Homo sapiens: one gene and its partners. The protein of the gene in region 1 interacts with the protein of each later gene in a biochemical or structural test. Each region holds a gene or a part of one and is shown in the gene's direction. Other genes may lie near its edges.

Region 1 (3,500 bases):
GTGTGCAGCTTACTGGGACCTGGCTTGCAGACCCCTGGCCCTCTGTCCATACTGTGCATGCAGAGACCCACGTTGCTTTTGGGGTCTGGGGTGGGCCTGAGAGGGTGGGGAGGAGATTGTCCTTGTAACCTCTGCCCACCCTGCCCAGCCAGTTTCTTCTTTCTACAGGGACGGTGCCTTCAGAGCCCCCCAGTGCCTGTGCCTCAGACCCGTGCGCTCCAGGGACCGAGTGCCAGGCTACCGAGAGTGGTGGCTATACCTGTGGGCCCATGGAGCCCCGGGGCTGTGCCACCCAGCCATGCCACCACGGCGCTCTGTGTGTGCCCCAGGGTCCAGATCCCACCGGCTTCCGCTGCTACTGCGTGCCGGGTTTCCAGGGCCCACGCTGCGAGCTGGACATCGATGAGTGTGCATCCCGGCCGTGCCACCATGGGGCCACCTGCCGCAACCTGGCCGATCGCTACGAGTGCCATTGCCCCCTTGGCTATGCAGGTAACAGCCTGGGCCGCCCTGGGAGGAGGTCTGTAATGCAGATCGCATCAGCTGCTCAGAGTGTAAGCATCATGGCTTCAGCTTTGCCTTTCGTGTAGGGACGCCCCCAGGCATCCGGGCAGCTCTAGGGTATATCCACTTGGTCTGACTACAGAACTGATGCCTGGCAGCTCTGGGTGAGAGTATGTATGTGCGGGTGCTGGCGTGGTGTGTGGCGCATCTCAGGCACTCGGTAAATGTGATTTCAGTCCAGCCTAGAGTTCAGTTTGGCTGCGGGGGTGGAATACCCCTCATTCATCTCTGGCAGTGTGAACCTGCCTGGCGTGACTTTAGTGAGGATGCCCAGATAGTCTTTCTAGCACTTCAGGCCTGTGCCAAGCTGTCATGTAGACACTGTCTACACGACAGTCACCATCAGCTCATTTGAACACTCCTGATGTGGTCTGGAGTGCAATGTGGACCCCTGGCCTCTGGGTCTCCCCCAGAGTTCTAGCATAGACATACAAGGTCTCGTTCAAACTGTAGTGTTGACATACCCCAGGGATCGCTGCTGTCTGGAGTGGGATAATATATACGTAAGTGCTCAGAAAAGTGACTGGCACTAAGGGTACCTTCTCCAGAGTGTGGCCCGTCCCAGGCCCACCCATGGTCTGAGCCGAGAACATCCTGGAGCGGCTTCCCAGAGAGGCCTGAAGTCGGGAAGGAGGGCGCAGCTGGGGACAGAAGGGGCGCAGTCTGGGAGCGAAGCTGAGTCCAGGGCAGAGTCTGAGTCTGCAGTGTAGATGCTCTGGATCCTACTTCAATCCTGAATTCAGACAACTGTACTCTGAGGGCAGAGGGCAGTTTGAAGTCACTTCAGAGCAAGAGGTACAGATTGGGGGGCTGGGTTCCAGGGCAGGGGGCCTACAGCGAAGAGATGGCAGCTGATGAAGAGAGATTTGGGAAGCTGGTTCCATGCATCTTTCTCATCGTTCCAGTGTCTCAGCGTCTGGGTGTATTAGTGTACATGCCAGTGCAGGTCACATTCGTCCATGTGTCTCCTAGTTCCAAGTTCTGTTTTGCATCTGTAAAGATCTGCCAGTACCTGGGGGTGTCTGCAGTCTGAGTGCATGTGTGGGCAGTGGGTTGTTCGGGCAGTGGGTTGTGTGGGCAGTGGGTTGTGCGGGCAGTGGGTTGTGCGGGCAGTGGGTTGTGCATCCGGATGTGTAGCACTCACACACTTCGGGTGACTCTTCCTGGGTAAGCTGTGGATGTGAGTGGGGGCAGCATCTGCCGTGACTCATTCTCTCCTCTTTCCATTCCAAGCCGGGTGGGGGAGTTTGGGATTTCCAGACAAGGCCTGGCTCCCCCTGGCACAGAGGGTGGGAGTGGGGATGGGGAGGGAGGAGGGAAGGGTCATGGGAAGGTGGGGCCATGTTTTGTGCTCAATGAACTGAGAAGGGGGAGGGTTCCAGCTGGAGTCAGCTGGGCCTCTGGCCCCCGCTTGACCAAACCCACTTAGGGGGCAGGGCCTGCTGGAGTCTACAGTGACACGTGAGTCCAGGATGATCTCAGGCAGCGTATCTGAAACCCTGGGACTCCCCATCTCCCTTCCTCTTCACCATCACCCTGGGAGAGCCACTCAGCTGTCGTGATTCGCCCAGGACTGCGAGGGTTCTGGGGACTTGGTACTTTCAGTTCTAAAACCAGGACAGTGCAGGGACACTGGGAGGAGTGATTACCCTACTCAAGCATCTCCTGCCTCTCTGGGATCTGAAAGCCACCAGAGTGGACCTTCTAAAAAGTAGGTAGGGCCAGGTGTGGTGGCTCACGCCTGTAATCCCAGCACTTCGGGAGGCTGAGGTGGGTGGATCACTTGAGGCCAGGAGTTGGAGACCAACCTGGCCAACATGGTGAAACGCCTTTTCTACAAAAAAATACAAAAATTAGCCGGGTGAGGTGGCATGCACCTGTAATCCCAGCTACTCTGCAATCTGAGGCACAAGAATCACTTGAACCCAGTGGGCAGAGATTGCAGTGGGCTAAGATTGCAGCACTGCACTCCAGCCTGGGCGACAGAGTGAGACTCTGTCTCAAAAAAATAAAAAACAAAAACAAACCCAAAACAACTAACTAAAATGTAGGTGGGACCAAGTCACTTACCTGTCTGAAACTTTCAGGATGGACCCAGAGGTTACCTGGTCCCCAAGGCACTGACACCTCCCACCCGACTCACCTCCGCCACCCTCTCCCTTGCTTCCAACCCTCCAATAACCCCGCCTAGGGCATCATGGCCCTGCCCCTAGTGGAACTTGCCTCTTGCTGCAGTCTCTTTGGAATCCAACTGCTGCCCACAGTCCCCTATCTGAATCCTTCAAAAGCCTCTTCTTCTAGGAAGCCTTCCCTGAACAGAGCAGACCCCGGCTATTGCTTTCCCAAGACCCAACCCCTTTCCTTGTTGAACTTGGCAACATCACCTAGCTCATTTAGGTAATTACTGGCTGAATCACCCCCCACCATGTCCTGGCCTAGACTGCTGTGAGCCCCATGAAGGCAGGGCTGTCTGTCTCGTTTCTCTCCCTGCGGTTGCTGGCATGACCCGTCCCCCACCCCCCAACCACCACCACCACCATCCGGCTCTGAATGAATGAATCCACGAGTCTCTAACTCTGGAGCAGGCCTGGCGCGACCTCTTCCGCCCTGCTCTGGGTGTCCATCCTGCACCCTGTGTGTCCCCTGCCCTGTCCAGGCGTGACCTGCGAGATGGAGGTGGACGAGTGCGCCTCAGCGCCCTGCCTGCACGGGGGCTCGTGCCTGGACGGCGTGGGCTCCTTCCGCTGTGTGTGCGCGCCAGGCTACGGGGGCACCCGTTGCCAGCTGGACCTCGACGAGTGCCAGAGCCAGCCGTGCGCACATGGGGGCACGTGCCACGACCTGGTCAACGGGTGAGCGAGCGGCGGGGCAGGCGGCAGGGGCGCCGGGTGCCCGAGGGCGGGGAGGCCAGGCGCGGGGCAGAAGGGGCAGGCGCG
Region 2 (3,500 bases), about 54 Mb from region 1:
TTTAGCAGCCTGGTTTCTGCGTTACCCTTCTGCAGTCTGGCTGAATCAATTGTGTTCTTGCCTGTGATTGGTGAGGATGCACATGCTAGTATTTATTCTAGCCCTTATCACTTCCCATCAGCCCTGAGCCCCTCCCTGGTCTGAGTCATCTTGGTAACCCCAGAAGCTAACAGAGCACCAACACATCCACTAAACGTTGGACTGACTTGATTTGGGGCAGGCTTGTTGTATAAGCTAGTAGGAATAAGAGACTAATTGAGAAATTAGGACAGTGGATTCCTGACATTTATATAGTGAGTAGATGATCGTTTGTTAGAATTGCGAATTTCATCCAGAGAATTTTGTCCAAAAAAAATTATAGAATTTCATCTAGACCATTTTTGTAATGGCATGGAAGCAGCATTAGCTGCACCACTGATTAGCTGGGTGGCTTTTGCTGTCTTGTGACTCTAGTTTGCAATTTCTTTTTTTTTTTTTTTTTTTTTTTTTTGAGGTGGAGTCTAGCCCTATCGCTGAGGCTGGAGTGCAATGGCCCGATCTCAGCTCACTGCAACGTCTGCCTCCTAGGTTCAAGCGATTCTCCTGCCTCAGCCTCCCAAGTAGCTGGGATTACAGGCACACGCCACCACACCCTGCTAATTTTTTGTATCTTTGGTAGAGACGGGGCTTCACCATGTTGGCCAGGCTGGTCTCGAACTCCTGAGCTCGTGATCCGCCTGCCTTGGCCTCCCGAAGTGCTGGGATTATAGGCATGAGCCACCTCGCCTGGCCTAGTTCTCAGTTTCTTTATCAGAAAATGAGTAGTTACAGTTGATCATCTCAAAGTCTTTTGTGCTTAAGATTCTGAAGGTTTTGAAGTTTGAGTATAAAGCCTAGAGAACATTCTAAATTATTTCCATTGGTTCTTCTCATCTTAAAATGTTTTTGTGCTCCTTAAACTACGTTTGTGTTTGCTTGCTTGCTTTCTTTTTTTTTTAGAGATCCAGTGGATTATCTCTGAAAAGCATTTTTTAAAAAGACAGAGTCCAAGAGTGGCTGGTAGTTGTTTTGCTCATAAAGTGATGGAAAGATCTATTATTCAGTTGCAGCTTAAATTATGTACCAGCACCACGTGTGCTGGATTCTCTTCCTTACTTTGCAGCTTAAGCCAGCAACTGCAACCATCTTGCAGAGCTTCTTGAGAATCCTTCTTCCTCTTCCTCTTCCTCTCCACCCCCATGGACTTCTCCCCGGGCCTCATTGCCTGTGACATACGCTTGGAAGGAGGGGCAGGCCTGCAGCTGGGAGCCCTTTCTGATTTGTTCTTCACAAATGTGTTGAAGATGAGCCTACTGGTCACTGCTGCAAAAAACCACATTGTTCACTGGTGTAAAATCACTGCTGTCATCTGAGTTTCAGCATAACTTCAGGCATGTTGGAGTTTTTCAACGTCACCTCAGGCAGAGCACTTTGCCTTCCTTGGGCTGGTCTGTTTAGTGTCTGGGTGAGTTTTAAGAGAGGAGAGACATTGTGGCATCTTAGACACTCACTGAAATTTTCCAGAAATGGAGCTGGAAACATTTGTGCGTTTCCTTCTGGTGTTATTGTTAAAGCCTAAAAACAAGGGCAAGTGGCAACACATTGAAATGAAGAAGCCCCAAGTTTGCAACACATTGAAAGGAAGAGGCCCCAAGTTCGTTTTGAGCCTAAATTGAATTTTAATCAAAGGTCTGAGAGAAATATTTAGTCTACTTATACTATTTAAGTGCACAGTTTGGCAGATGACTTTGGGCAGTGAAGGATCTGGAAGAGGCAGGAAAGGTAGACTCAATCTGCCAGACTTAGAGCTAAAAAAATTTGCCTGGTATGTTTCCATGAAGAAAATTTTCCTGTAGAAGCAGTGGCACGACCTCTGTTACAAGTCTGCTTATTGATAATGAAGCTTTTTCTGTGTTATCAATTTCGTTGAATTTATATGTATGTATATACATATACACACACACAAATCTCAAGTAGAGAGCTTGATGAATTTCTTTTTTTTTTTTTTTTTGAGATGGAGTTTCACTCTTGTTGCCCAGGCTGAAGTGCAGTGGTGCCATCTCGGCTCACCACAACCTGTGCCCTCCAGGTTCAAGCAATTCTCCGGCCTCAGCCTCCCGAGTAGTTGGGACTACAGGTGCGCACCACCATGCCCGGCTAATTTTGTATTTTTTTTTTTTTTAGTAGAGACAAGGTTTCTTCATGTTGGTCAGGCTGATCTCGAACTCCTGATCTCGGGTGATCCACCTGCCTCAGCCTCCCAAAGTGCTGGAATTACAGGCGTGAGCCATTGTGCCTGGCCAGGGAATTTTATTTATTGTGGTAAAGTACACATAACATTAAGTGTACCATTTTAACCATTTTAAAGTATAAAATTCAATGGCATTTAATACACTCACAGTATTTTGTAAACACCATCACTCTCTAGTTCCAGAGGTAGGTGAATTTTTACATGAATGTATTCACCTGCATGATTACCACCTAGATTAAAAACTAGAATTTTCCATCACTCTGGAAGGTTCTCTCTTGCCACTTTTCCAATGATTACCACACCTACCTAAAAGAGAACTTCTCTTCTGACTTCTCTCACCGTGGAACACTTTTGCTTGAACTTGGGAGAGGACCCATATATAAATAAAATCAACATTTTATGTCTGTCATCTTTCACTCAACCTAACCTCTGTGAAATTCATCCGTATTTGTTGCGTGAGATTCAGTAGTTCTTTTTTGCCACTGAGTCGTATTCCATTTATATGCATCTGTCACATTTGGCTTATCTCTTCTGTTGATAGGTATTTGGGTTATTTTCAGTGTTTTTGCTATTATGAATAAAGCTGCCATGAAAAGCACCTACACATTGCCTTGTGGACATGTACACCCATTTCTCTTGTGTGAATTCCTAGGACCATAGGTTAGGGATTTTTTAAAAAACTTATTTTAGATTAAAAAAAATATTTTTTGAGACAGTCTCACTCTGTCACCCAGGCTGGAGTGCAGTGGCATGATCTCAGCTCATTGCGACCTGTGCCTCCCAGGTTCAAGTGATTCTCCTGCTTCAGCCTCCCAAGTAGCTGGGATTACAGGCATGCGCCACTACACCTAGCTAATTTTTGTATTTTTAGTAGAGACAGGTTTCTCTTCAACTCCTGAGTTCAAGCAGTCTGCCCACCTTGGCCTCCCAAAATGCTGGGATTATAAATGCGAGCCACCACGCCCAGCCAGGTTACAGATGTTTAACTTTGATTCTTTACCTCTGAAGTCAAATAAACCTGGGTGTGAATTCTTTTGTCCTGCCACTTGCTTGCTTGACTTTGAGCAATTTACCTTTTTCTCATGTTCAGTTTTCTCAGTTGTAAAATAGGCCTACCCTATCAGTCATGGTTCAGTCAAGAAGACATGTCATTCTAGCTATTTCAAGGAGAAGGGGATTCAATACAGAGTATTAGTTGCCTTCAGGACAAAGAAAAGGCGAGATGCGCAAA
Region 3 (3,500 bases), on another chromosome or scaffold:
GAAGAAAAACATTTTATTTTTCTAATAACATTCCAAACAATTATGATGACGCTATTCTAAGGACCATACTTTGAGTAGTGAGGCTTTATTGTAGAAGAGCTAAGTGAAATGATATTTGAAAGAACCTGCAGAATTTGATTGTGGCGTAGCTTTTGGCAGTCTTAGAGGGTTTGAGGTGAGTAGGAGAAATCTCAAAAAAAAAAAAAAAAGACAGTGAAGAGATTTTGGTAACTTAAACTTTTTATTATATAAATATCAGATATATTCAATAGTAGAAAAGTAGTAAAAATAAACCCTGCAGGTATTTGTTTATCCAGCTTTCATAATTGTCAACTGAACATTTGCCAATTCTGTTTCTTCTGTACTCCCACTTACACTCCCCTCCCTTCACCCCATTGCAATAACTAATTTTTCTTTAGTTTACAAACTAGAGATTGCAGAGGGTAATACCAATACTAATGTAAACAGAATAACTCTTTTTTTAATGTGGCGTGTTTCTGGGTATGAAATTTAAGGAAATAGGACAGAAAGTTAAAAGGTATATATAAATGAAGACATTCATAATTGTTGATACTTGTGAAAAACAGTTTAAAGCAAATAAAAATATCTAATAAATAGCGAGGTAAATAATGTATCAATCTAATAGAATATTATACACCAATTTTAAATTATTGCTGTCAAGCCCATGTGGTGACATGGAAAGAAATATTTTAATATGAGCTTTTAAAAAACCTACCATTTGGCCAGGTGCGGTGGCTCACACCTGTAATCCCAGCACTTTGGGAGGCCAAGGCAGACAGATCACGTGAGCTCAGAGGTTCAATATCAGCCTGGCCAACATGGTGAAACCAGTCTCTACTAAAAATAGAAAAATTAGTTGGGCATGGTGCTATATACCTGCAGTGCCAGGTAGTCAGGTGTCTGAGACACAAGAATAGAATCGCTTAAACCTAGGAGGCAGAGGTTGCAGTGAGCTGAGATCGTGCCACTGCACTCCAGCCTGGGCAACAAAGGGAGACTATCTCAAAAAAAAAAAAAAAAAAAAAATGAAATTTCCAGCTGGGTGTGGTGATTCACACCTGTAATCCCAGCACTTTGGGAAGCTGAGATGGGAGGATCCCTTGAGGCCAGGAGTTTGAGACCAGTGTGGGCAACATAGTTGAGACTTGTCTCTTTTATTAAAAAAAAAAAACAAAATTTTAGCAGGGCATGGTGGTACATACCTGTAGTCCCAGCCACTCTGGGCTAAGATGGGAGGATCACAGAAGCCCAGGAGAGGAGGGCGAGGCTGCAGTGAGCTATAGTCATACCACCTCACTCCCACCTGAGCAACAGAGTGAGGCCCTGTCCCTTTAATTAAAAAAAAAAAAAAAAGTTAAAATAAAAATTCAGATTTCCCTGTCTCATTGAAAGTTTTATTTTTATTTTTTAAAAATAAAAGTATTAGTCTTTGTTTAATTGAAGGGAGATATTTATTGAGAGAAAACTTGAGATGACATTTACATGGATGAGAAGAGTGCCTATGGTTTTACCAAACAATAAAGTCGTGAAATGGAGTCACTTTTAAGGAGGGCCAGGCAGTTTCTGGCTGGGTGTGTTTGTTCTCATTGTCTTTTTTATGTTTTGCAAAAGCCAGCCAGTGCCAGTCTTATCAAAGCAGAGTTTCTAAGAAATATTAGTTGGTTTTAAAATGCAATTGCCACCATCGGTGCCTTCCCTTCCAGCTGAGACATCTGAATTTATGACTTCTAATATTAGTTGGTTTTAAAATGCAATTGCCACCATCAGTGCCTTCCCTTCCAGCTGAGACATCTGAATTTATGACCTTTACAATCCTTTATCTATATGATCTCAGAAACATGGATTTTCATCTTCAGAAACAGGAGCAAAGCTGGATTGAAAATAAGATCATCTATTTATTTTTAATTACAAAGACATCCCGTCATTAAAATGGGCATCTATTTGTTTAAATATAGTTTGTCCCCTTTGCCAGTTAACGCTGTTTCAAAAACTGAAATAGTGCCAACAGTATTTTCTCCTTTGAGTTTTATGTCTACATTTGGACTAATTCAGGGTCACTTAGCCCTTTTTGTCATATTCTACTTGCTATTTATAATAGATTTGTTCATAAACTGTGTTGTACAAAAATAAGGCATTGTCCTTAATTACAGGAGTTTTCCTTTGCTAATATATATTTATTATTTGAAAAACTTAAACGTTTCAAAGAAAAAGAAAATGCTTTTAAAAAATTATTTTGTTATATATGGCTTATATCTCAACATTTCATTTTGATTATTTGCTTTTTAAACTCATGACACTGTTTTATTTTTTTTCATTGTCCTGCAATTTCAGAGCATGTAACTTCTAATGCCAGCGATAGTGAAAGTAGTTACCGTAAGTGTTTTAAGTTACTTGTTCTTTTGTAATCTCGAGTAATACATCCTCTGCAGGGGTGGAGGGATTCTGAGTGATATGTTATAAAAACCTGAAGTTATATGATCGTTATTTTAAAATCAGGGAGAGACAAGTAAAATTCTGTACTTGAAAAATAAAATCATACTATATATGTAGAGGTTAATTTATAAAATTTTAATAAAATAAAAATATTATTTGTGTACATGATACATATGTATATGTATATGTATTTTTTGTAAGAAGTAAATATCTAGTTAAATGGGGGAAAACTTGTATTTTGACCTTCTGTTTAGTAATTGGTTTTAACATGAGCACTAAAATAATATTTTTCAGTAATGCTAAATTATCATTAGCTTTATTTCCATTTTTATTCTTTGTCACCAATACTGATCTGGGTCATGTCATTGTTTATCACCAGCACTTGGTGAACGGAAGAAATAAGGAAACATTTTCAATGATCACCTGAAAAATAATACTAATTTTTCTTTTGCTGTTTTATATTACATTCTTGGTTTTATTAAGTGAACTGCACAAGCATGTGATGTTTTAAAACAGACTTGGGCATGGGAGAAGGGGAGGGTACATAATATCAGTTGTAGCACCTTAAAAATTAAAATTACTTTTCTAACTTTCTTTTTTTACTGCTGTCTAATATGAAAGTAATCTTGATTACAGATGAGTATGGCTGCTCAAAAGGTCCATCCTGTTAATATCAGTCCCTAATACTTTTTCATGTTGACAGTATATACTTTTAACCGTCATTCATTTGGTTGATTATTTTTCTACACAATAGTTACTTAATGATTTTTTTTTTGGTGTGGAAATGATTTCCTGTATTTCAGCATTTTATTAATTATAACCAGAACCCACTATAGGGTAGTTGAGTGGCTTTCTAGGCTAAAAAGAGGTAATGAAAGTATATACTGTCTCTCACCATTTGCATGAATTATTAAGGTGTGAAATATTCAAATTGCATGTGTTTGCTAGTATGTAAGCCATGTTTCACATCCAGTACTTTAAAAAACAGCTTATAAAATATTGGTCTTATGTACTTTGATAATAAAATTGAAAACAAAGAAATACTT
Region 4 (3,500 bases), on another chromosome or scaffold:
AGTATATTTTTGTCAAAGAGAGAGGAGATTCTTTTACTGATACCATGCAACCATGGTGGGAATTGGGAATGGGTGTGACATCTCACTAAGCCCATTTCTAGGTGCCATTCTGGACTGCCCTTGGATAAGCTGAAACTACTGTGCCTCAAACCCCATATTAACTGCTCGTTTGCTTTATGACATTACTTTCTACTTCTCTCACTCTAGTCTCTTCGCATTTTTACAGATCTCAGTTTTATCAACAGAAGACTCTTCTGTTTCCTCATAGAAGGTTTTTTTTCCTCAGCAGTTGCTTTTCATTCAAGATTTTCTTATCTATAGTAGTAACTTTATTTGCTCCCAGGTGAGCCCTTGGGACAATCTTGGACATATTTTAATTTGTGAAAATTTAGGACCAATTCAGGATAAGTTGTATTAGTATTCTCTGATATGATGCAAGACCATAGTGTGTTATAAGGGTCTGTTTTAACAAGTCTTCTTGAATTGATCTGATATGATTTCCTACTGTGTTAACATAAGAAATAAAAGTTAATGATAGGTACGTCATTTGCCATGTTTTACAGCAGAAAGTTGCTGTTTTAAAGATAAAAATATGCTTTAACAGAATTTTCTAGTACAATGCAGCTTCTTTTTTGAATGGCTTTTTGTTCTCATTGTCATTAAATATGTGGAAGAAATCAATGCCTTTATTACTTTGAGATAAATGTTCATTTCATTTCAGTGTTTTAAAAAATTGTCCTATTGCCAGGCGCGGTGGCTCACGCCTGTAATCCCAGCACTTTGGGAGGCCGAGGCGGGCGGATCATGAGGTCAGGAGTTCAAGACCAGCCTGGCCAACGTGGTGAAACCCCATCTCTACTAAAAATACAAAAATTAGCTGGGCATAGTGGTGCGTGCCTGTAATCCCAGCTACTTGGGAGGCTGACGCAGGAGAATTGCTTGAACCCAGGAGGTGGAGGTTGCAGTGAGGTAAGACTGTGCCGCTGCACTCCAACTTGGCGACAGAGAGAGACTTCGTCTCAAAAAAAAAAAAATTGTCCTATTGTCTTCGGAGCTTCTTTTAAACTGGTGTAGAAGTTTGTCTGAAATTATTTATTTATATGACCCTTTATTTCCTTTGAATTATTTTTTTGCAGTGGTTCTCAGTGATATAATATATATATAAACATTTTTATCATGTACTGAAAGCTAAGTCCTATCTTTTTTATATGTATATGTTTTGACATTATAGCTTTCAAAGGAAGCTGAAGAATGTTATATAATTGGAATCTTTTTTTTTTTTTTTGGGAGACAGAGTCTTGCTCTGTAGCCCAGGTGGGAGTGCAGTAGTGTGATCTCGGCTCACTGGAACCTCCGCCTCCGGGGTTCGTGCAATTCTCTTGACTCAGCTTTCTGAGTAGCTGGGATTACAGGTGCGTGCCACCACACCTGGCTAATTTTTGTATTTTTAGTAGAAACAGGGTTTCACCATGTTGGCCAGGCTGATCTCGAACTCCTGACCTCGTTATCCACCCACCTTGGCCTCCCAAAGTGCTGGGATTACAGGCATGAGCCAGTGCGCCTGGCCTTAGAATCTTAAGACATGATATTGCCATATATCTCATAGGCACCCTTGAAACTGAGATTACAGTTTCCTGGACTCACAGTTCTTAAATTATCTCTTTGCTTTTGGTTGACTGTATACTTCATAAAAGTGTCATTTCTTTTTTTTTTTTTTCCTCTGGGGAAGAGGACCTTATGACTCTCCTGCTTATTTTTTCCCTATTCAAAGTTTTCTTCTTTTGTTGTTTCCTGCACATTATGGCTCCACTTCTTGTTTTATAGTATCTTACTAATTTACATTTGCTTTTTGTTATCGGGTATACTCTGTTTTCATCTCTAGTTTTTCTTAAGTTCTTAAAATCATTTTTTTTTCAGAATCAATAAGAGGGGGAATATGTACAGGTATATCTCAGAGATATTGCGGGTTAGGTTCCAGACCACTGAAATAAGGCCTATTATCACAATGAAGCAAGCTACACAAATATTCTGGTTTTCTGATGCATATATACAATATATTGTATACTACGGTATATATGCACTGGGAAACCAAAATATTTGTTGTATACAGTACAGTATATACTATACTATAGTCCATTAGGTTTGCGATCGTATTATGTCTAAAAACAATGTACGTACTTTAAGTAAAAATGCTTTACAACTAAAAAATGCTAATGATCATATGAGCCTTTAGCGAGTAGTAATCTTTTTGCTGGTGGAAGATCTTGCTTCGTTGTTGATGGCTGCTAACTGATCAGGGTGATGATTGCTGAAGGTTGGGATGTCTAAGGCAATTTGTTAAAATAGGACAACAATGAAGTTTGCCACATCAATTGACTCTTTATTTTATGAGAGATTTCTCTGTAGCATGAGATGCTGTTTGACAGCATTTTACCCACAGTACAACTTCTTTCAAAATTGGAATTGGTTTTCTCAAACCCTGCTGCTGCTTTATCAACTAAGTGTATGTAATATTCTAAACCCTTTGTTGCCATTTCAAACAATGTTCACAACATCTTCACTGGAAGTAGATTTCATCTGAAGAAACCACTTTCTTTGCTCATCCATAAGAAGCAACTCCTCATTCATTCCAGTTTTATCATGAGATTGCAGCAATTCAGTCACATCTTCAGGCTTCACTTCTAGTTCTAGATCTCTTGCTATTTCCATTCCATCTGAAGTTACTTCTTCCACTGAAGACTTGAATCCCTCAAAGTCATCCATGAAAGTTGGAATGAATGTCTTCCAAACTCCCGTTAATGTTGATATTTTGACCTCCTCCTGTGAATCAAGAATGTTCTTAATGGCATATAGAATGATGAGTTCTTTCCAGGAGGTTTTCAATTTACTTTGGCCAGATCTATCAGGGAATCACTGTGGCAGATATAGTCTTACAAAATTTATTTCTTAAATAATAAGGCTTGAAAGTTGAAGTTACTCCTTCATCTGTGGCCTGCAGAATGGATGTACTATTAGCAGGCATGAAAACAACTTTAATCTCCTTGTATATGTTCATTGGAGCTCTTGGGTGACTAGGTGCATTGTCAATGAGTAGTAATATTTGGAAAGGAATCTTTTTTTTTTTTTTCTGAGTAGTAGTTCTCAACAGTGAGCTTAAAATATTCAGTAAACCATGCTGTAAACGGATGTGCTGTCACCCAGGCTTTTGTTGACCTACTTTTAGAGCATGGACAGAATAGATTTAGCATAATTCTTAAAGACCCTAGGATTTTTGGAAGGGTAAATGAGCATTGGCTTCAACGTAAAGTCACCAGCTACATTCACCCATTAGCCTCTAAGAAGCGTCAGCCTGTCCTTTGAAACTTTGAAATGAGGCATTGATTTCTCTCTAGCATTTTCTTCTGATGTAAGGCTATTTTGTCTGAATTGAAAATCTGTTGTTTAGCCATTTTCATCAATTATCTCAGCTAGATCTTCTTGATAACTTGCTGTAGCTTCTT
Region 5 (3,500 bases), on another chromosome or scaffold:
GATAAGCTTGTGCAATAGTTACAGAACTTGCCTTAGAATCTAGCATGCCACCTTCATCAACTCTGTTGAAAGAAAGAACCATGAAGTTAAAGACCAGCTGTCCATGCATTTCTCATCCATCTCTAGAAATGATCTAGCTGGCCCCTCTCCTGGTTAACTTTAGTTGCATTCATGCTATATTCATGTTGGTCACTGTCTGTAGACTTTTTCTTTTTAGTATTGCTGACTTCTTAGAATTGGAAAAATATGAACAGCATGTGGTTTCAAATTAATTCATATGATTTGTTGGATACTACATGAAAAGATATGTAGTATCTTTTAGATTTGGACATTTTAATGCATGTGTTCAGCATCTTTGGATGCCCCTGGTTCTAAAGAGCATTTTCATGGGCTTAAAAATGAAAATTTCTCCCTAGATGCTATATGACTTAAATTACATGTAAGCCATATATCATAAGTTGGATTCATATTTTTAAGACATGGTTTTAATATAACTGTAGTTTTGCCAGTAAAATTATAATTTATGTACATGAAATAGTCATTCTACAAATTTACCTTTCTTCTAAATCTTTGCGTTTTAGTGTTTGATCAATTAGATCTTGTCACATATGAAGAAGTAGTAAAACTGCCAGCATTCAAGAGGAAAACACTAGTCTTATTAGGTAAGTTTGATTGTGTAAGTGAGTTGCTTATTCTCACTTTCAAAACATTTTGTGAACATTATTAAGAGTTGTCAGTTTTAACATTCTTTTTTTCTAAATGACATAGGCGCACATGGTGTTGGGAGAAGACACATAAAAAACACTCTCATCACAAAGCACCCAGACCGGTTTGCGTACCCTATTCCACGTAAGCAATGTCTCAATCTCTTTTCATTATATTTTTCCTATCACTTTTTTAACTCTATAATTTATGTATTTTTTTCTGATTACATAAGGTATAACTGTTCATTGTAGGAAATTTGTAAAATCAAAAAAAGAACAAGGAGGAAAATGAGTTAACAGTAATCCCAACCCCTCTTTCCCTATAATAAGTGCTATAAATATTTTGTTGTATACCCTTCTAGGCTTCTCTGTTGTATACCCTTCTAGGCTTGTCTTAGTACAGATATGTGTATAAAGTGTGTGTGTGTGTGTGTGTGTGTGTGTGTGTGTGTGTGTGTTTTAAATAAAATTAGTTTTATCCATTCTGTTTGTAACAATTTTTCTAACAATATGTCATACACATTACCTAGATGAATTATTCTTCAGAAAAATAAGTTTTCATAGTTGTACAGTTTCTGATATGACAATTTTTTTCCCTTAGTTAATATTTAAATTGTTGATTTCTTACCACTTTTTAAACCCAATCAATATGCTAACAGTTGTTTCTGTAAAGATTTTCAAATCTGTAAGATTTTTAATTCTCCTTATTTTCCGTATCTTATTCTTAACCTCTTGCCCTCTTCATTTTCTCAATTGTAAAATGAAGTAATTCAGGATTGCAGAGAGGATTTGAGATCATGTGTATGAAGCACTTAGCAGATGGTGGATAAGTAGAAGCTATCTACCACTATCATTTCATTATTATCATCATTATTCTAAAGTTTAAAATTTTAGGCCAGGCGCGGTGGCTCATGCCTGTAATTCCAGCACTTTGGGAGGCTGAGGTGGGCGAATCACCTGAGGTCGGGAGTTTGAGACCAGCCTGACCAACATGGAGAAACCCCGTCTCTACTAAAAATACAAAATTAGCTAGGCATAGTGGTGCATGCCTGTAATCCCAGCTACTCAGCAGGCTGAAGCAGGAGAATCAGTTGAATCCGGAGGTGGAGGTTGTGGTGAGCCGAGATCGTGCCATTGCACTCCAGCCTGGGCAACAAGAGTGAAACTCCGTCTCAAAAAAAAATAAATAAAATTTTAACCCCAGAAGCTTTCTAGCAGCTCAGGGTTGGAAGAGCTAAAGGAAAATTATTTTTTAAGAGCAACAGGAGAAAATGTGAAGATTGGCTCCATTCTATAGGGCCTTCACATGCCTTCCTGAAGCAATGTCAATACCACTTACAGTTATCTGTACACCTCAGAGAGCCAGGAGGCTTCATGAGAAAACCTTCATCCCAAAACCTTGTCTGATTTACACAAGAAAAGAAATGTATCCAATAGTGTCTCATTTGGCACTACTGGGGTTTTCTAGTAAAACACTTTGAAGTGTTCTTTTAATTCTCCTTATGTCTAGATCATGAGTACAGCAAGCTTAGCTAACATTTAGCTTCTTCTTAACCACGTAACAACTGAACTTCCATGTTATTAAATGGCCAGTTAACTAGTTTGGTTTTAAAACTTACCTTTGATGATGTCAATCATGACTAGTCTTTGAAATATTTGACCCTGTATGTGTATATAACATATATCTAACTACTGAGATGACTGAAGATAGTACAACATCAATATGTTATGTAAGTTCTTGGCTGGGCGCGGTGGCTCACACCTATAATCCCAGCACTTTGGGAGGCCGAGATGGGTGGATCACATGAGACCAGGAGTTTGAGACCAGCCTGGCCAATGTGGTGAAACCCCATCTCTACTAAAAATACAAAAGTTAGCCGGGCATGGTGGCACACACCTGTAGTCCCAGCTATTAGGGTGGCTGAGGCATGAAAATCGCTTGGAACCCGGGAGCTGGAAGTTGCAGTGAGCTGAGATCTTGCTACTGCACTCCAGCCTGGGCAACAGAGTGAGACCCTGTCTCAATAAATAAATAAATAGTAACGCCGGTTCTTCAGCTTTTGATGTGCCTAGAGAAAGGGCTTCTCTTAAAATGTCCACATTTTGATGACCACGAGCACTTTATGTTCTAACAAACAGGCTAGCAGGAAAGGGGGATTCCCCATTAGTTTAGGCTCATGTATACAGAAGAGAGTAGCATAAATTTGTTCTTTCTCAAAGAAAGAAGGAAGCAAAGAAATTGAGAGAGAGAGGGAAAAAAAGGGAAGGAAGGGAGAAAAGAAAGGGGGGTAGGGAGAGAGAATATTAAAACCAGTGTTCCTGGCTCATCTAGAAAAACATTTCCTAAAGTGTGTTTTGCAGGATACTGGTCCTATTAGTATCCACAGAACTAGAGCTTATTGGCATATACTTCAGTTACACTCACTTAGGTGAGGGGTGGGCAAGCCTTTTCTGTAAAGGACCAGATAGTACACATTTGAGGCTTTAAGGCCATACAGTCTATCACAAGCACTTAGCTCTGCTGTTGTCTCATGAAAACAACCATAGGCAATATGTAAACAAAAGCACATGGCTGTGTTCCAGTAAAACTTTGTTTACAAAAACAGACAGTAGGTGGCCAGGTGCAGTGGCTCACACCTGTAATCCCAGCACTTTGGGAGACTGAGGCGGGCAGATCACCTGAGGTCAGGAGTTTGAGACCAGTCTGGCCAACATGGTGAAACCCCGTCTCTGTTGGAAATACAAAAAATAGCTGGGCATGGTGGTACACGCCTATAATCCCAGCTGCTCAGGAGG
Region 6 (3,500 bases), on another chromosome or scaffold:
TAAACCAATGAGACATGGGAACTGGCACACTTTTTCTCGAAAGCTCCAAATAGTAAATATTTTAGGCCTTGTGAGCCAGAGGGTCTCTGTCGAAGCTAGCAACTCTGTCCTTGCGGGGTGGAGGCGGCTGCAGTTGGGAGTGAGTATGGCCACCTTCGGCACAGTGGATGGCACAGGACTGGACCCTCAGTGGGAGTGTCCAGACCCCAAAATTAGAGAATTCAACCAATGGAAAAAATGGTGAAAGGGTACAAACACACGGAATATGAGCAGGTCAGTCAGCATGCTTCGTTTGTAATTAAATCCATGTGAAGTAATACAACAGGGACATAGCGTTTTCCACCTGTCAGACTGGCAAACATCAAAAAGTTTGATAGGCCAGGCGTGGCACCTCTCACCTGTGATCCCAACACTTTGGGAAGCCCAGGTGGAAGGATCACTTCAGCCTAGGAGTTCGAGACCAGCCTGGGCAACATAGTGAGATCCCACCTCTACAAAAAAACTTTAAAAAATTAGCCAGGCATGGTGACACACACCTGTAGTAGTCCCAGCTCCTCCAGAGGCTGAGATGGGAGGATCACTTGAGCCCAGGAGTTTGAGGCTGCAGTGAGCTAGGATTGCACTACTGTACTCCAGCCTGGGCAGTAGAACAAGACCCCATCTCTAAAAATAAAATAAAAAAGAAAGGTAAAACTGATTGCCCATCAGTAATAATAATAATAATAATTTTTAAAAATTAAGGTATAACACACACACAGTACAGTCTTAAGCGTACAAACAGCTTGACGGGCCTTCACATGCCCTTCTGGAGCCAATCACCCAGATCAAGATTTGGGTCCTTTCTAGGTTCTGGGGAAGTGCCATATCCCCTCCCAGTCGTTACCCCTCCCCTGTCCCCTAAGGGAGGACCCTTCCAACCTCTATCACCATCCCTGTCCTTGAACTTGACGTGGACGGAGTCACATTCAATGTTTCTTTTTCATTGCTACACAGTATTTCATGGCATAAATTTACCGCAATAGGGGCAGGCGCTGTGTCTCATGCCTGTAATCCCAGCACTTTGGGAGGCCAAGGCAGGCAGATTGCTTTGAGCTCAGGAGTTCAAGACCAGCCTGGGCAACAGGATGTAACCGTCTCTACAAAAATTCAAAAATTAGCCAAGCATTGGTGGCTTGCGCCTATAATCCCAGCTACTCGGGAGGCTGAGGCTGGAGAATTGCTTGAGCCCAAGAAAGCAGAGGTTGCAGTGAGCCAAGATCGCACCACTGCACTCCAGCCTGGGTGACAGAGTGAGACCTGTCTCAAAAAAAAAAAAAAAAAAATTACCACAATTTACTTATCCACCTGACCGTTGATAAATGTTTCTGTTGCTTGCAGTTTGGGGCTGTTATGATGAAACCACTGTGAACATTCTTATACGTGTCTTGGTGGTGATGGCCCTTTAAAAAAAAAAATCTGGAAGCAGCCTGGGCACAGTGGCTCATGTCTATCATCCCAGCACTTTGGGAGGCTGAGGCAGGAGGATGGCTTGAGCCTAGTTGTTTGAGACCAGCCTGGGCAACATAGTAAGACCCCATCTCTACAAAAAATGTAAAAGTTAGCTGGTGTAGTGGTCATGCCTGTGGGCCTAGCTCCTCAGGAGGCTGAGGTGGGAGGATCACTTGAGCTCAGGAGGTAGAGGCTGCAGTGAGCTGTGATTGCACCACTGCACTCCAGCCTGGGCGACAGAAGGAGACCTTGTCTCTGAAATTTAAAAAATCCAAGGAGGGCTGGGCGCGGTGGCTCACGCCTGTAATCCCACCACTTTGGGAGGCCGAGGCAGGCGGATCAAGAGGTCAGGAGATCGAGACCATCCTGGCTAACACGGTGAAACCCTCTCTCTACTAAAAATACAAAAAAATTAGCCAGGCGTGGTGGTGGGCACCTGTAGTCCCAGCTACTCGGGAGGCTGAGGCAGGAGAGTGGCGTGAACCCGGGAGGCGGAGGCTGCAGTGAGCCGAGATCGCGCCGCTGCACTCCAGCCTGGGTGACAGAGTGAGACTCCATCTCAAAAAAAAAAAAAAAAAAAAAAAAAAATCCAAGGGCAAGCAGAGGCCCTGTGCCGGCGTTTTCTGCGGTTTAGTAAATTGCTATGTCAGTGGATAAATGCTGCTGTGAAGTAAAACTGTAACGTTATTGACATTAGTGCTTCGTTGCCTGCCTCTGCGTAAGGATTATGTGATTCGTGGAAATCTTCTAAGAAGAAATGGCCTATTTTTAAAGGGATTCAGGTATCGTTGGTTCCGGGGGAAACGTTCAGCAGAATAATAACGATACCTCACACCGCCTTCCAAGACTCCTGACTTCAATTCTCAGACGCGTTTCAAGAAGCAGCTTGATACCCTGCGGAGAGCCTCTGCGAGCTGACATGGGGGTCCCTGTTTGCCAGTGAACAGGCACCGTGATCCCCGTTTGAGTCCCTGAGGCACGCAGAGGCTCTTGGCTCTTCGTAGGAGAGTTCTCGATCTTTGAAAAATGTTTCTCCTCCTTCTTAAAGGACGGCCTTTTACCGGGCCCTGTTCCGAGTGTTCTGAGCCCGGGGAGGTCTTAGACTGGCGAAGAGCATGACCTAGTGGGGAAAGGACCCAGCTCCGGTACAAGCAGAAGGCCGTCTGTGCGCCGGGGACGGGTCACCGTGTCTCCTCACTCATTTTATGTGGAAGTTTGCTGTAATTTTGTCTTGCTCTGTTGCCCAGGCTGGAGTGCAATGGTGCCATCATAGCTCACTGCAGCCTCAGCCTCCTGGGTTCAAGCAATCCTGTCACCTCAGCCTCCCAAGTAGCTGCGACTACAGGCATGTGACACCATGACCGGCTAATTTTTTTATTTTTTGTAGAGATGAGGGTCTTGCTATGTTGCCCAGGCTGGTCTCGAACTCCTAGACTCAAACTATCCTCCAGCCTCAGCCTCCCAAAGTTCTGGGATTACAGATGTGAGCCACCGTGCCCAGCCCTGTATCTTTCTTAAGTAATTTGTACATATATACATATTATTTTTAAAAAATTATATATGTAATTATATGTATAATTATATATTTATATATAATTGTATATAATATGTATAATTATATTTGTATAATATCTATTTATATAATTTATATATATAATTTAGTAATTATATATATACAGTTCTATTTTCTTTGACACAGAGTCTCACTCTTGTTGCCCAGGCTGGAGTGCAGTAGTGTGATCTCAACTCGCTGCAACCTCCACCTCGCGGGTTCAGGCAATTCTCCTGCCTCAGCCTGCTGAGTAGCTGGAATAACAGGTGTGTGCCACCATGCCCAGCTAATTTTGTATTTTTAGTAGAGATAGGGTTTCACCATGTTGGCCAGGCTGGTCTCGAACCCCTGACCTCAGGGGATCCGCCCGCCTCAGCCTCCCAAAGTGCTAGGATGACAGGCATGAGCCACCGTGCCCAGCTGTAATTTTAAAATATATTTTAAAGATCAACCTTATGTC
Region 7 (3,500 bases), on another chromosome or scaffold:
CTGAGGCAGGAGAATGGCGTGAACCCGGAAGGCAGAGCTTGCAGTGAGCCGAGAACGTGCCACTGCACTCCAGCCTGGGCGACAGAGCAACCCTCTGTCTCAAAAAAAAAAAAAAAAAAAAAGAGTGAAAAAAAATAATGGAGTAAGGTAAGAGAGATAGGGAGTGCTGGGTAGGGGGCAGGGTGCAGGTTTGAGCTAAAACCTATAGATGGGCCAGGCACAGTGGCTCACACGTGTAATCCCAGCACTTTGGGAGGCCGAGGCAGGCGGATCACAAGGTCAGGAGTTCAAGACCAGCCTGACCAACATGATGAAACCCCATTTCTACTAAAAATACAAAAATTAGCCAAGCGTGGTGGCATGTGCCTGTAATCCCAGCTACTCAGGAGGCTGAGGCAGGAGAATAGCTTGAACCCGAGAGGCAGAGGTTGCAGTGAGCAAAGATCGCACCATTGCACTCCAGCCTGGGCGACAGAGCGAGACTCTGTCTCAAAAAAAAAGAAAAGAAAAAAAAACACCTAGAGATGAAGTGGGGAATCGTGAGGCTCCCTGGGGTTGAGGCATTCCAGGCAGAGCGAACTACCTCTGCAAAGGTCCTGAGGTCGGGCTGAGTCTGGTGCGTTTACAGAACAGGGAGGAGGCCTGTGTAGCAGGGGCCAAGTGAGCACTGGACATGAGGGCAGTGGGGGGACAGGGTCCCGATCCTGCAGGGTCTGGGGAGTCATGGTGAGGACTTGAACCTTTGCCCTGAGTGAGGTGAGTGAATGGCAGGGCTCTAAGCAGAGGAGGGACATGAGCTGACTTCGGTTTTAACAGAAACCCTCTGGCTGCTGTGAAGGGACTAGATTGAAGGGGATGAGCTGGGAAGCCGGGGGACCAAAGAGGAGGTGACAGCTATTGCTATCCAGATAGGAAATGATAGTGGCTGGCCCAGGGTGTTGACTCTGGAGGGGTGAGAAGGGATTGGATTCCGGATATGTTTTGAAACAACAGGATTTGCTGGTGGATTGGATGTGGGTGACTTGAGGAAGAAAGCTAAGAGTGGCTGCAAGGTTTTCAGTCTTAGCACCTGAAAGGACAGAGCTGCTGTTTGCTGCGGTGGTGGGGAGGGACCGTGGGCTGGGAGGAGTCTGTTGGTGAGGAGATCAGGAGCTTGGGTTGGAGCGTTTGGAGTCTGAGATGCCCGTGAGACAGCCAGCTGGGTGTGGGTATTTGAATATAGGGGCCCAGAGCTCAGGGCGGAGGATGGGGCCCCAGGCATAAACGTGGGCGTCGACAGCAGAAAGGCAGTGAATGAAGCTGGTCACTAGTTGAGAGGGAGTAGTCAGAGGTGAGAAGAGGTTCAAAGACCGAGCCTTGGCAGTGAAGTAAGCAAAGACTTAACTCCTGCACGCCTCCTGGAGTTGTTTTTCCCTGATTGGATTCAGCTTTCCCCAACTCCTGGCGTTCAAAGTCCACCAGTGTGAGTCTTACACTCCCACTGAGTGTGGGGTCCACCTGGCTCGCATCGTTTACCTGATTTTTTTTTTTATAGATCCAATCCCTTTTAAACTTTAGCCTCATCATAAGTGGTTCTCTCTGTAGAATCACAGCTTTGATGTGCTGGTTGCATTTCTTTCCCGCATATACGTGAAAAGAAACACGCATCTATGCATAAACACGAGGGGACTATCCCTTCCCAGCTCCAGCCACTTTTGCTGGCCCCAAACCGTTCACTGAGCCTTTGAACGGAATTAGAAAATGGCGCCCCCTCCTGGCGTGGGGAGGAAGTTCTGCTGAATTTCAGTTTCCTCACCTTCCTTGCGGTTTGCAGTTGTGCAGTGCACAACCTGTACCTCTGTATGAAGCAGATTTGGGTTTACCTCAAATAGGGAAGAGCTGGGCGAGTCCACGTGAAGTTCCTGGCATATACGGGGTGCCATTCTTGTCATTAGTATTGTTGCGGTTCTATGGGATAGTGGAGCAGGGAGACCCTCCCCGCCAGGGTCCCCCTCCTTGAGCCTCTGTATCTCCCCAGGTGCGGCAGAAGATGACAGACCTTACCTAGCACCCCCAGCCATGAAATTCAGCCGCAGCCTGTCTGTGCCTGGTTCGGAGGACATTCCCCCGCCACCCACCACGTCCCCACCGGAGCCTCCCTACAGCACACCTCCAGTCCCCTCCTCCTCAGGGCGCCTCACCCCCTCCCCTCGGGGAGGGCCCTTCAACCCTGGCTCTGGTGGCCCCCTCCCCGCCTCCTCCCCTGCATCCTTTGACGGGCCCTCCCCTCCCGACACTCGCGTGGGGAGCCGCGAGAAGAGCCTGTACCACAGTGGGCCCCTGCCCCCGGCCCACCACCACCCGCCCCACCACCACCACCACCACGCCCCGCCCCCTCAGCCCCACCACCACCACGCCCACCCCCCTCATCCTCCCGAGATGGAGACAGGCGGCTCTCCCGACGACCCTCCACCCCGCCTGGCTCTGGGGCCCCAGCCCAGCCTGCGAGGCTGGAGGGGCGGCGGGCCCAGCCCGACCCCGGGGGCCCCGTCCCCATCGCACCACGGCAGCGCGGGCGGGGGCGGCGGCTCCTCCCAGGGCCCGGCTCTACGCTATTTCCAGCTGCCCCCGCGGGCGGCCAGCGCAGCCATGTACGTGCCCGCCCGCTCGGGCCGCGGCCGCAAGGGCCCGCTGGTCAAGCAGACCAAGGTGGAAGGCGAGCCCCAGAAGGGCGGCGGCCTCCCGCCCGCGCCGTCGCCCACGTCCCCGGCCTCCCCGCAGCCGCCGCCCGCCGTGGCCGCGCCCTCGGAGAAGAACTCCATCCCCATCCCCACCATCATCATCAAGGCCCCGTCCACCAGTAGCAGCGGCCGCAGCAGCCAGGGCAGCAGCACCGAGGCGGAGCCCCCCACCCAGCCGGAGCCCACGGGAGGCGGCGGCGGCGGCGGCTCCTCGCCCAGCCCCGCCCCGGCCATGTCACCCGTGCCCCCGTCCCCCTCGCCCGTGCCCACCCCCGCCTCGCCCAGCGGCCCGGCCACGCTGGACTTCACGAGCCAGTTCGGGGCCGCCCTGGTGGGGGCGGCCCGGAGGGAGGGGGGCTGGCAGAATGAGGCGCGCCGGCGCTCCACGCTGTTCCTGTCCACCGACGCGGGGGACGAGGACGGCGGGGACGGCGGGCTGGGCACAGGGGCGGCCCCGGGCCCGCGGCTGCGCCACTCCAAATCCATCGACGAGGGCATGTTCTCCGCCGAGCCCTACCTCCGACTGGAGTCTGCGGGCAGCGGCGCGGGCTACGGCGGCTACGGGGCCGGTAGCCGAGCCTACGGGGGTGGCGGGGGCAGCAGCGCCTTCACCAGCTTCCTGCCCCCGCGACCCCTGGTGCACCCGCTGACCGGCAAGGCCCTGGATCCCGCCTCCCCGCTGGGGCTGGCCCTGGCCGCCCGCGAGCGAGCGCTGAAGGAGTCCTCGGAGGGCGGCGGGGCCCCCCAGCCGCCTCCCAGGCCCCCATCGCCCCGCTACGA

Evidence for each region.
Region 2: the proteins of CRB2 (region 1) and TJP2 interact in a test that uses a peptide from one of them, tested with the Homo sapiens proteins (one large-scale study listed by IntAct).
Region 3: the proteins of CRB2 (region 1) and DLG1 interact in a test that uses a peptide from one of them, tested with the Homo sapiens proteins (one large-scale study listed by IntAct).
Region 4: the proteins of CRB2 (region 1) and DLG2 interact in a test that uses a peptide from one of them, tested with the Homo sapiens proteins (one large-scale study listed by IntAct).
Region 5: the proteins of CRB2 (region 1) and CASK interact in a test that uses a peptide from one of them, tested with the Homo sapiens proteins (one large-scale study listed by IntAct).
Region 6: the proteins of CRB2 (region 1) and CARD11 interact in a test that uses a peptide from one of them, tested with the Homo sapiens proteins (one large-scale study listed by IntAct).
Region 7: the proteins of CRB2 (region 1) and SHANK1 interact in a test that uses a peptide from one of them, tested with the Homo sapiens proteins (one large-scale study listed by IntAct).

What each region holds. Positions count from the first base shown.
Region 1 is NC_000009.12:123,362,697-123,366,196, forward strand, and holds part of CRB2 (protein crumbs homolog 2 precursor), read left to right. Parts: intron 1-168; coding exon 169-492; intron 493-3,220; coding exon 3,221-3,416; intron 3,417-3,500. UniProt on the Homo sapiens protein: Apical polarity protein that plays a central role during the epithelial-to-mesenchymal transition (EMT) at gastrulation, when newly specified mesodermal cells move inside the embryo.
Region 2 is NC_000009.12:69,180,777-69,184,276, forward strand, and holds part of TJP2 (tight junction protein 2), read left to right. Parts: intron 1-3,500. UniProt on the Homo sapiens protein: Plays a role in tight junctions and adherens junctions. Acts as a positive regulator of RANKL-induced osteoclast differentiation, potentially via mediating downstream transcriptional activity.
Region 3 is NC_000003.12:197,068,113-197,071,612, reverse strand, and holds part of DLG1 (disks large homolog 1), read left to right. Parts: intron 1-2,352; coding exon 2,353-2,394; intron 2,395-3,075; coding exon of another isoform or gene 3,076-3,111; intron 3,112-3,500. UniProt on the Homo sapiens protein: Essential multidomain scaffolding protein required for normal development. Recruits channels, receptors and signaling molecules to discrete plasma membrane domains in polarized cells.
Region 4 is NC_000011.10:85,620,845-85,624,344, reverse strand, and holds part of DLG2 (disks large homolog 2), read left to right. Parts: intron 1-3,500. UniProt on the Homo sapiens protein: Required for perception of chronic pain through NMDA receptor signaling. Regulates surface expression of NMDA receptors in dorsal horn neurons of the spinal cord.
Region 5 is NC_000023.11:41,532,055-41,535,554, reverse strand, and holds part of CASK (peripheral plasma membrane protein CASK), read left to right. Parts: intron 1-581; coding exon 582-662; intron 663-768; coding exon 769-849; intron 850-3,500. UniProt on the Homo sapiens protein: Multidomain scaffolding Mg(2+)-independent protein kinase that catalyzes the phosphotransfer from ATP to proteins such as NRXN1, and plays a role in synaptic transmembrane protein anchoring and ion channel trafficking.
Region 6 is NC_000007.14:3,033,868-3,037,367, reverse strand, and holds part of CARD11 (caspase recruitment domain-containing protein 11), read left to right. Parts: intron 1-3,500. UniProt on the Homo sapiens protein: Adapter protein that plays a key role in adaptive immune response by transducing the activation of NF-kappa-B downstream of T-cell receptor (TCR) and B-cell receptor (BCR) engagement.
Region 7 is NC_000019.10:50,667,803-50,671,302, reverse strand, and holds part of SHANK1 (SH3 and multiple ankyrin repeat domains protein 1), read left to right. Parts: intron 1-2,017; coding exon 2,018-3,500. UniProt on the Homo sapiens protein: Seems to be an adapter protein in the postsynaptic density (PSD) of excitatory synapses that interconnects receptors of the postsynaptic membrane including NMDA-type and metabotropic glutamate receptors via complexes with GKAP/PSD-95 and Homer, respectively, and the actin-based cytoskeleton.